2 separate regions of the Homo sapiens genome follow, and region 2 is linked to region 1. Evidence: fine-mapped expression QTL. A gene starts in region 1. The other region holds a variant in brackets. All regions are shown on one strand. Distances are between the middles of the regions.

What was found.
Region 2: its variant is fine-mapped to the expression of RBM19 in whole blood (TOPMed, PIP 0.95).

The regions. Positions count from the first base shown.
Region 1 is chr12:113,964,297-113,969,674 of GRCh38, forward strand. It overlaps RBM19 (RNA binding motif protein 19), which reads right to left and starts at 2,029. Exons shown (of 24, transcript NM_016196.4): 1 at 1,896-2,029. The coding sequence starts at 1,931. RefSeq lists enhancers at 451-1,379, 1,380-2,307, 2,266-2,335.
Region 2 is chr12:113,808,533-113,813,910 of GRCh38, forward strand. No RefSeq gene overlaps it. Among named protein-coding and RNA genes, the nearest start is that of LINC01234, 38 kb to the left of the region's middle. The variant A/G (reference allele first, on the strand shown) is at 2,762.

The DNA.
Region 1 (5,378 bases):
AAAAATAAAACTTACCTCACAGGGATATGGTGAGGATTAAATGTTACTTTACCTAAAGCACCTGGAACAGTGCCTGGCACACAGTAAACTCTCCAAGTGTCAGCTGCAACTGCCCTTGTTTTTATTATTCTTTCATTCATGAGATAAGACAAACAATGATAAGAGAGTCAACTACACTGTGAAGTGCAACAAAGCTGAATTTGGGAAGAAAAGGAAGTGCAGCCACGCTAAAAATCCTCATCGCACAAAGCAAGGCATCAAGAGACATGTCTAACCTGATGGATGGATGAGTAATAGATATTTTTAAGTATACTACTCAGAGATTATAACAGGATAATTAAAAACAAGAATATTACAGACACTGGAGAGGAGGAACAGATGATCTAAATTCCTTATTTTTCACAGTTGAGGCCTAGCAGATAGTCACTGGGGCAGGCAGGTCAAAAGGAGGAAAGTACACTCCTCAAATATACAGAGATACATGTGAGGAGTCCCAAAAACAAATCAATGAAGATGGTTACTCCTGGACAGAGAGGGAAGGTAGGACAGAGCAAAGACTTTGCTACTCATGTTATACACTACTATACTGTTTGAATTTTGAAAACTGTGTGTTACAAAGTTCCTTTGTCCCACCTGACAAATGAAAAAAAAAAAAGGAAAGGAAAAAACTCACAACATTAGAACAGAAATGGGGGCCAGGTGCAGTGGCTCACGCCTGTAATCCCAGCACTTTGGGAGGCCGAGGCGGTGGATCACCTGAGGTCAGGAGTTCGAGACCAACTTGTCCAACATGGCGAAACCCCATGTCTCTACTAAAAATAAAAAAATTAGTCGGGCTTGGTGGCGCGTGTCTGTAGTCCCAGCTACTTGGGAGGCTGAGGCAGGAGCATCGCTAGAACCCGGGAGGCAAAAGTTGCAGTGAGCCGAGACTGCCGAGATTGCTCCACCGCAGTCCAGCCTGGGAGACAGAGCCAGACTCCGTTTAAAAAAAAAAAACAAAAAAAGAAAAAAACAAAAAACAAAACCAAAAAAAGCCATGAAAGAGAGAGAAAAAAAAGAGATAAGACAAACAATGATAAGAGAATCAACTACACTTGAAACACAACAAAGCTGAATTTGGGAGGGAAAGGAAGTGCAGCTACGCTAAAAATCCTCATCCCACAAAGCGAGGCATCAAGAGACACTGTCTAACCTGATGGAAGGAGCAGTAATCCATTTAAAAACAAAAAAACAAAACAGAACAAAAAACAGCGAGAGAGAGAAAAAAGGATGATCCATTCGAGCCCACCGCATCTAATCATCTAATATTACGTACATTCACCTATTTTGCCTACCACGTGTCGGGTTCTGCGCTGGGCTCCAGGGAAACAAAAAAGTATGGCTGGGTCACCACTCCCCACTTACTGGATAAATGCTGTAAAGCCCTTTACCCACTCCGTATTCCTACTTGCCCTAAGGATGGGAGTGGGAATTGGAACGCAGGTCCGCAGATTAATATTCCCCATGTCTTCCCCAACAGTTTCCAGACTGGGAGAGGAATATAAATACAGTGTCGGACCATGTCCCGGGTCAACAACTAAAAAACAGTGATCGAATGAAAGAGGTTGTGGGAGCAGGGTATTCGCCACAAGGTGGGAGTTGTCATCTCCCCGAGAAGAGGTGTGTTAGGAGTCAGGTACCAAACAACCGGCCGTGAAACCGTAAGCAGTCACTATTCCTCTTTCCTCGGGATCAAATGGGGATAAGCCCAGGATCCCGCCCCCTTTGAGTTCAGAATTGGCCCGGAGTCCTGCCCCAGAGCAAAAATTCTTCGATCACCTCCAGGCATCTCTTCCCTACCTCACAGCTCCCGGCTGGTCTCATTTCAGATTCCCAAGTCCTGCCTCTGCACTCACCCCATTCGGGAGATTCTTCACGATCAGTCGCGACATGGCGCAGGGTCCCCGCTGTTTTGATTCCAACACGACTGGTCAGCGTCTTCCACCAAGTTTCACGCTACCGCCCTGGGCGCCGCCATCTTTACCGAGCCGGAACACAGTCACGTGGCTGAGACCTTGGCCTGACCTGTCCGGAAGTAGGCGTGGCTAATCCAAAACTACTCAGGGAGGTCACACCCCACAAGGGGTGGGCCTGGGCGCTTGCATTTTGCGCAGGCGCAGGGCCTTGGGCGGATTCTGTGAGACGCCAATGCAGCGGAGAAGGCGGCAGGGGGCGCCGGTCCCTAACATGCGCCGGTTTAGCTCGGTGTTAAGGGTCGCGCCAACCGGGCAATCGCGTTCTCTCCTTTTTCTTATTTTATTTTTATTATTGAGCCTTAGGACTCCCCTGAGAACGGGGGCAAGATTAGGGACCCTTGCCTTCCTCGTAGAAATGGGGAAAGTGAAGTTTAGAGAGATTGCCAGCCAACACAAATCAAGTATTGAGCCTTTTGTGTAAATACTTGGAATGAACATGTTGGAAATAAACGCTCTCATTTTGCAGGCAGATAAACTGGGAATCGTGCGTGTAAAGCAGCTTGCTCAAAGTCTTATAACTATGAATTGGAAAGTCAGATTCGAGCTAGGGACTGCCTAGGGCCCTACAATGAGTCTCTACGCCTTCAACCCCAGCCCCACAAGCATTTTGCCTCCCTTCCTAATGTTTGGAACTCTCAGCTGGCCAATCTTCTAGCTGAGAGATCTTGGCCAAAATGGCCTCTGAGCCTTTGTGTCTACTTCTATAAAATGGGAATAATTCTTTATTATGCTAGGGGTTAAGGAGGTGAGAACGTGAAAGGGATGTTATTTTCCTATTGCTTCTCTGAGCATTCTCGGTACCTACTCTTGGATGGAGACATCCTATGAAAACCCCTATTTTCACTCTTAAATGACGGTATTTCCTTTCTGTTTCCCCACAGTGCCTCAGCTGCACTGGACGTTGCTGCCAAGCTTCTGCAATTTCCTTCACCTAAAAGACATTCCGTCCCCCCTTCTTATTGTTAACAGCTTTATCACAAACCATGCAATTCACCCACTTAAAGTGCACAATTCAATGGTGCTGACTATATTTACAGAGGTGTGCAGCCATCACCACAATCAATGCTAGGACATTTTCATTACCCCCAAAGAAACACCACACCCTTTAGCTATAACCTTCCAATTCCTCCCTCTCCCTTCCCTCTGATAACCACTAATCTACTTTCCGTCTCTATGGATTTGTCTGTTATGGACATTTCATGTAAATGGAATAATACAATATGTAGTCTTTTGTAATTGACTTCTTTCACTTAGCATAATGTTTTCAAAGTTCTTCCATGTTGCAGCATGAATCAGCACTTTATTTATCTGTTTATTTATTTGAGACAGGGTCGGGCTCTGTCACCCCGACTGGAGTGCAGTGGCACAATCTCAGCTCACTGCAACCTCCGCCTCCCAGGCTCAAGCCATCCTCCCACCTCAGCCTCCTGAGCAGCTGGGACTACAGGCACATGCCACCATGCCTGGCTAATTTTTTTTTTTTGGTAATTTTTTGGTAGAGGCGAGGTTTCAACATGTTGCCCAGGCTGGTCTTGAACTCCTGGGCTCAAGCAATCCACCTGCCTTGAACTTTCAAAGTGCTGGGATTACAGACGTGAGCCACCACACTTTTTTTGCTGAATAGTATTACATATATGGATGTATTACATTTTATTTATTCATCAGTTGATGATGGACATTTGGGTTGTTTCCGCTTTGTGGCTACTGTGAATAATCTTGCCGTGAACATTTACCTGTAAGTTCCTGTGTGGGCATATGTTCTTATTTCTCTTGGATATATTCCTAGGAGTAGGATTGCCTGATCATATGGTAACTCTATGCTTAACCTTTTTAGAACCTGCTAACCTGTTATCCAAAGTGGCTTCCCCATTTTATATTCCTACCAGCGGTATATGAAGGTTCAAATATCTCCACATCTCCTCCAGTGTTTGTTATTGGGTCTTTATAATCATAGCCACTCTAGTGGGTGTACAGTGGTGACTCAATGTTTTGATTTGCATTTCCCCGATAACTAATGAAACAGCATCTTTCATGTGCTTTTGGCCACTGGAATATCTTTCTGAACCCATTCCCATCCCCTCTCTAAGACCAGCTCAAACATGGCATCCTCGAATATGCCTCTTTCCTACTGAGCCCCAAATGCAGGGAGCTCATGCATCTGCCACAGCATAAACCTACAGAACTCGCTGGTGAGGAGCGCACAGTGTAGGTTCAGAGTTATAGATGAGGCCACTTGTTCTTTCTACATTATGTTGCCATAGGGGCATCCTTAGATCCATCTTTGCAAAGCATCACACTGGGCACCAGGAGGAGACAGGTAATAGGAGTTCATTAAATGCTAATTGTAAATTAAGGTCTGTCCATTCAACAGAATTCTATGCAGTTGTTAAAAAACGGTAGGTATGTAGCTATAAATGTTTTTGAAGGAAATGCATCAGTCAGCAGGACACAGAGGTATACTCAAAAGGATTTAACAAAAGCAAATCTGGACAAAAAGCTATTTACAGAAGGGTGGGCAGTGTAGTGGGATGAATGATCCCCTGTCCCCTCACCACCACACACACTGGGGGCATCCTGACCCCTGGAAGCTGTAAATGTGACTTTATTTGCAAAAAAGTGTTGTATTAGTTTGTTCTCACGCTGCTAATGAAGACATACCTGAGACTGGGTAATTTATAAAGGAAAGAGATTTAATGGACTCACAGTTCCACATGGCTGGGGAGGCCTCACAATCATGGTGGAAGAGCAAGGGATGTCTTACCTGGTGGCAGGCAAAGAGAGAATGAGAACCAAGTGAAAGGCTTTCCCCTTATAAAACCATCAGATCTCGTGAGACTTATTCACTACCACGAAAACAGTATGGGGAAACCACCCCCATAATTCAATTATCTCCCACTGGGTCCCTCCCAGGACACGTGGGGATTATGGGAGCTACAATTCAAGATGAGATTTGGTGGGGACACAGCCAAACCATATCAAGGGTCTTTGCAAATGTACTTAAGGGTCTCAAAATGAGATCATCCTGAATTATCCTGGTAGACCCTAAATCCAATGACACATGTCCTTTTAAAGGACACACAGAGAACGTCATGTGTAGGTGGAGGTAGAGTCTGGAGTGATGCAGTCACAAGTCAACGAAGACCTGGAGCCACCAGAAGCTGAAAGAAGCAAGGAAGCGTTCTCCCTTGGAGGTTTTGGAGGGAGCATGGCCCTGCTGGTGCTTTGGGGGATTCTGGCCTCCAGAAATGTGAGAGAATAACTTTGCATTGTTATGCCATCTAATTTGTGGTAATTTGAGACAGCACCTGCAGCAAATGAATACAGGAAGGGTTAAGGGAACCAACAAAGGATGGCCAAACCCCA
Region 2 (5,378 bases), 160 kb before region 1:
TTTGAAGTTATGCTTTCATAGTTCCAGAGTCCACAAGTCTGAAATCCAGGTGTGAGCACGGCTATGCTCCCCTGGAGGCTCTAGAGGATACTTCCTCGGCCCTTCCAGCTTCTGGTGGCTCCTGGCGTTCCTGGCCTTGGCTGCCTCGCTCTGGCCTCTGCCTTCTCTACCCATCATCAGAACCTACCCACTCTGCTACAACCACGGCTTCAAAGTCAGCCAGGGAGAGAACAGGTCGGGCTTCGTGGGGTGAGGGTGTTGTTTCTGCAGAGGTGGTGGAGGGCCGGCCACAAGGTTATCTATAAAAGTAACCAGAAGGTCCGCTAGAGGAATGCTTTTCCTGGGAGTGTGGGCTGCGGGGGCGTGTCCCTGAGTGTCAGGGTGTGGAGGGAGAGGAGGTGGCAGCTTCACAGGCAGCTGGGCATGGCTGCTCTCCTGCTCTTGGACCTTCAGGGGCTCTCTGCTGCCCTCAGGGTAAGTCCACCTCTCAGGGTAACCCCTACTCACCTCCTGGGACACAGTTTAGAAGCCACGTCTTTTGGGAAGCCCTCCCCACCCTTCCTTTGGACACCTGCCCCACTTCTCCTTTGGCACCATGACCACCTGTTACTTAGCCATCTCCCAACAGACTGTGAACTTTCACAGCAGCAGTGAGCCTACTGTGTTGTATGTTTGTTTGTTTTTGAGGCAGAGTCTCGCTCTGTCGCCCAGGCTGGAGTGCAGTGGTGCCATCTCAGCTCATTGCAACCTCCACCTCCCGGGCTCAAGTGATTCTCGTGCCTCCTGAGTAGCTGGGACTACAGGCGCCCGCCTCATACAAAAAATGCCCAGCTCATTTTTTGTATTTTTAGTAGAGACGGGGTTTTGCCATGTTGGCTAGACTGGTCTTGAACTCCTGACCTCAAGTGATCCACCCGCCTCAACCTCCCAAACTGCTGGGATTACAGGCGTGAGCCACAGCACCCAGCTAAGTTATGTATTTTAGTAGAGATGGGGTTTCACCATGTTGGCCAAGCTGGTCTCAAACTCCTGACCTCAAGTGATCTGCCCGCCTCAGCCTCTCAAAGTGCTGGGATTATAGGCATGAGTCACCGGGCCTGGCTGATCCTGTTGTGTTGATTGCTGGATCCCTGGCCGCCAGTTCAGGGCTGGCCAATAGGAGGTGCTCATTAAATGCTTGTAGAGCAAGGAAAGGGGACTCAGATGGTCTGCAGAGGGTTGAATGGTGACCTCCCCCAAAATATACGTCCACCTGGAACCTGTAAATATGACCTTATTTGGGAAAAAAGGGTCTTTGTACATATAACTAACGATCTTGAGATGAGATTATAGGTGCCAACTGTCCTCAGAAAAGAAAGGCAGGCTGGGCGTGGTGGCTCAGGCCTGTAATCCCAACACTTTGGGAAGCTGAGGCGGGTGGATCACCTGAGGCCAGGAGTTCAAGATCAGCCTGGCCAATGGTGAAACCTTGTCTCTACTAAAAATACAAAAATTAGTTGGGCGTGGTGGCGGGCACCTGTAATCTCAGCTACTCGGGAGGCAGAGGTTTCAGCGAGCCGAGATCGTGCCATTGCACTCCAGCGTGGGTGAGGGAGCAAGACTGTCTCAAAAATAAGTTGAGCAAGGATCCTCCCCTAGAGCCTTCGGAGGGAGCACGGCCCTGCCCACACCTGGATTTCAGACCTGTGGACTCCGGAACTGTGAGAGCACAACTTTCTGTTGCTTTAAGCCCCCCAGTTTGAGGTATTTTGTTACAGCAATCACAGGAATTAACATACTGCCCTATCAGAGAAAGCCTTTCTGAAGATCTGCGGAAAAGAAGGACGTTAGGGAAAAGCCAGCCTCTGTGTAGGTAACACTCCGAGGGTGCACTTGGTCAGACACGAGTGAATCTACACATGGGGCAAACTTGATGCCTTATTCCCCCAGCCCCCAAAATTGGCATTTTGTCTTAATGTGTAAGCAACAAGATCCACATGTTACTTTGGAGTTTTTCACTGACAACCAGCACTAGTGTCTAACACAGTGGGTTAAGAAAAGTGGGTTAACTTTTCTTGGTTTAAGAATGTGATGAGGCCAGGCATAGTGGCTCACACCTGTAATGCCAGAACTTTGGGAAGCCACGGCAGGAGGACTGCTTGAGCCCAGGAGTTTGAGGCCAGCCTGGGCAACATAGGGAGACCCCTTCCCTAAAAAAAATTAAAAAATTAGCCGAGCATGGTGGTGCATGCCTGTAGTCCCAGCTACTCAGAAGGCTGAGGCAAGAGGATGACTTGAGCCTGGGAGGTTGAGGCTGCAGTAAGCCATGATCACACTACTGCACTCCGGCCTGGGTGACACAGCAAGACCCTGTCTCAAAAAAAAAAAAAAAAGAAAAAAGAAAAAAAAAAACCCCAAAAATCTGATGAACACATTAGATTCATGAGTCTTTTTCTTTTTTCTTTAAAATACTTTAAGTTCTGGGATACATATGCAGAAAGTGCAGGTTTGTCACATAGGCATACATGTGCCATGGTGGTTTGCTGCACCCATCAACCCACCATCTACATTAGGTATTTCTCCTAATGCTATCCCTCCCTTAGCCCTCCACCCCCAACAGGTCCCGGTGTGTGATGTTCCCTTCCCTGTGTCCATGTGTCCTCATTGGTCAACTCCCACTTATGAGTGAGAACATGTGGTGTTTGGTTTTCTGTTCCTGTGTTATTTGGCTGAGAATGCTGGTTTCCAGCTTCATCCATGTCCCTGCAAAGGACATGAACTC[A/G]TTCTTTTTTACGGCTGTGATACATGAGTCTTTAAACAATGCTTATGTGGGGTTAGGTTCTAACGTCAGCTCAAAAGGTGGAAATCAAGGACAGTCAAATTGACCTTGAAAATGCCCTGGGAAGACCCCAGGCAGCACCCAACGATCAGTGGCTGAGGCTGCTGGCTGCCCCCAGCATTTGTTTTCCCGCTTCCTGTAGAAGGAGGGGCTGTATGTTTTGGGGAGCATATGGCTGCCCAAGAGAAAGACCATTTCCCAGCATCTCTTGCAGCTAGGCTCAACCAGGTGACCATATTCTGGTCAAAGTGACATGAGAATGCACAGGCTGTGTCCTTGAAGGGCAGGGCAAGCCCTCTTTTTCCTCCCCACTCCCAGTGACTGGGTGATGGCAGCACAGCGGGGTGCTGTCTGGGCCATGGAGGCGTGTCAGAGTGACAGTTCAGAGGGGCTGGGCCCCTGCTGCTGTCAGACCAGGCCTGTTCACCTTCCAACTGTCATGTGACAGAAATCCACCTCCATCTCATTTAAGCCCACTAATGTCTGGGTCTGTCACAGGAACCAACACATTCCCTGACCTATATACACTGTTGCTCTGGGAGGCGAACACAGCAGGCTGTCCCCCAGCACTGGGGCAGCTGCTGTTCTTTGGTTGAGCATTGGGTGAAGTTGTTGACTTGTGTTCAGGGTTCACAAAATACCTCGCAGCTCACAAAGACTGCAGTGAGATGCTTACACTATGAGGGTTGGGCAATTGAGCCTAGGAATATAAAATCCTGGGAGGTGGAGGGGTTAAGGGTGCCGGACTCCTCAGCCCCACATCTCAGCATCTCTGGGGAATGCAGTCTGAGAATCGTTCATGGGACGCAGTGTTTCCTGCTATCCCTTGCACGGACTGCCACATATCCAGCTTCCTGTCCTCTTCCACAAAGCCAGAGGGGAAGGAGAGGAGGGTCTTTGACTGTGGAGCCACAGCCTGGGAAAAGGGACTGCCTTCTTTCTGGAACATCGGCCACGGGCTGCTCCCCTCCTTTCCTGGAGCCTCAGTTTCCTCATCTGTGCCATGGCAGTGACAGCCCCTGCCTAGTGACTCAGCTCCCACCTGCGAAAGTGCTTTGTAAACTGCAGGTGTACAAGGTGGCAGCGATGTTATCGCCTGGAATCTTTTTGGGGACCAGGAGAAGGGAGGGCTCCTGACAGTTTCCAGGAAAGGCAGGAGCAGCTGCTATCCAGAAATCTGCACAACAAAATGTCTGCTATTGGCCTAAGCCCAAGGATGGGACATGGTGGCCCCAGTGGACCGCTTCCATGAAATCTGCAATTATGGGGAAGTGGGGCTTATTAAGGAAGCTGGAGGGGAATGCGGCCCTGGCTTCTAGCAATGCTATAATTAGATTGCAGGGCCCCTTTTACTTTGCTGACGATCCAGAAGGCCTTGGCCCGGGGCTTGTGCTGAAATACCCTGGCCTCCTGGGCAGCGGGTGATGGCCCAAGCCTGTCGGGGTGCAGAAGGACACTGCCTTTATGTTGGGGGGATGGGGTAACAACAGCTGAGGCTTGTGTAGTGCTCATGTGGGGCCGGCGCCATTCTCAGCCTTCACTTCATCCTGGCATCTGCAGGAGTCTGTCCTGTTCTCGGTTCACAGGTGAGAACACAGGCACAGAGAGGTCAAGGAGGTTGCTCAAGGTCACATTGTGGCTAAGTGGCAAAGTAGTAAAGAAGGGGTATGAATGATTGAAATCAGGGGTCGCCAAACCACAGCTCGTTTTTCTTTTTCCTGCTACTGTTGCCTGGTCTTGTCAATAAAGTTTTACTCAGCACATGTGCCGAGGCAGCATAGCAGAGGTGAAAGAGCCGGAACGGGGAATTCTGCCACAGTGTGACCTTGTAGAAGACACTCTGGGCTTTCTAATCTGTAAAATGATGGGGGTTTGCTTTAGATCGGGGTCACTGCACTTGATGCAAAGGGCCAGATGGTAAATATTTTAGGCTTTGCAGGTCATAAGGTCTCTGTTGCTACTCAACTCTGTTACATGCAGCAACTATTGACAATATGTAAACTAATGGGCATGGCTGTATTCCAATAAAACTTTATTCACAAAACCAGGCAACAGCAGCACAAAAAAAAAAAAAAAAAAAGAGGGCCATGGTTTGCCAACCCCTGATTTTGATCATTCACGTCGCTTCTTTACTACTTTGCCTCACGAAATTCATGTTTTTAATACTTTTCTTTATACGAATTCACCGGTATTCCTTAGAGCTTAGCAACACCATAGGTTTGATGACCTAAACAAATACAGGTTTGTATTTGTGGCATACATGTGAAAATAAACTTGTGAGTTAAAAATTAAAAAGAAAAGTGTGTGGGCCACCTAAACCATCTCCTGAAGCACAGAGGTCCGTGCTCTGTGCTTTGGGAGACATTTTTTAGTTCAATATATTTTTTTTCGAGATGGAGTCTCACTCTGTTGTCCAGGCTGGAGAGCAGTGGCACGATCTCGGCTCACTGCAACCTCTACCTCCCGGGTTCAAGTGATTCTCCTGCCTCAGCCTCCCGAGTAGCTGGGACTACAGGCACGTGCCACCATGCCCGGCTAATTTTTTATATTTTTAGTAGAG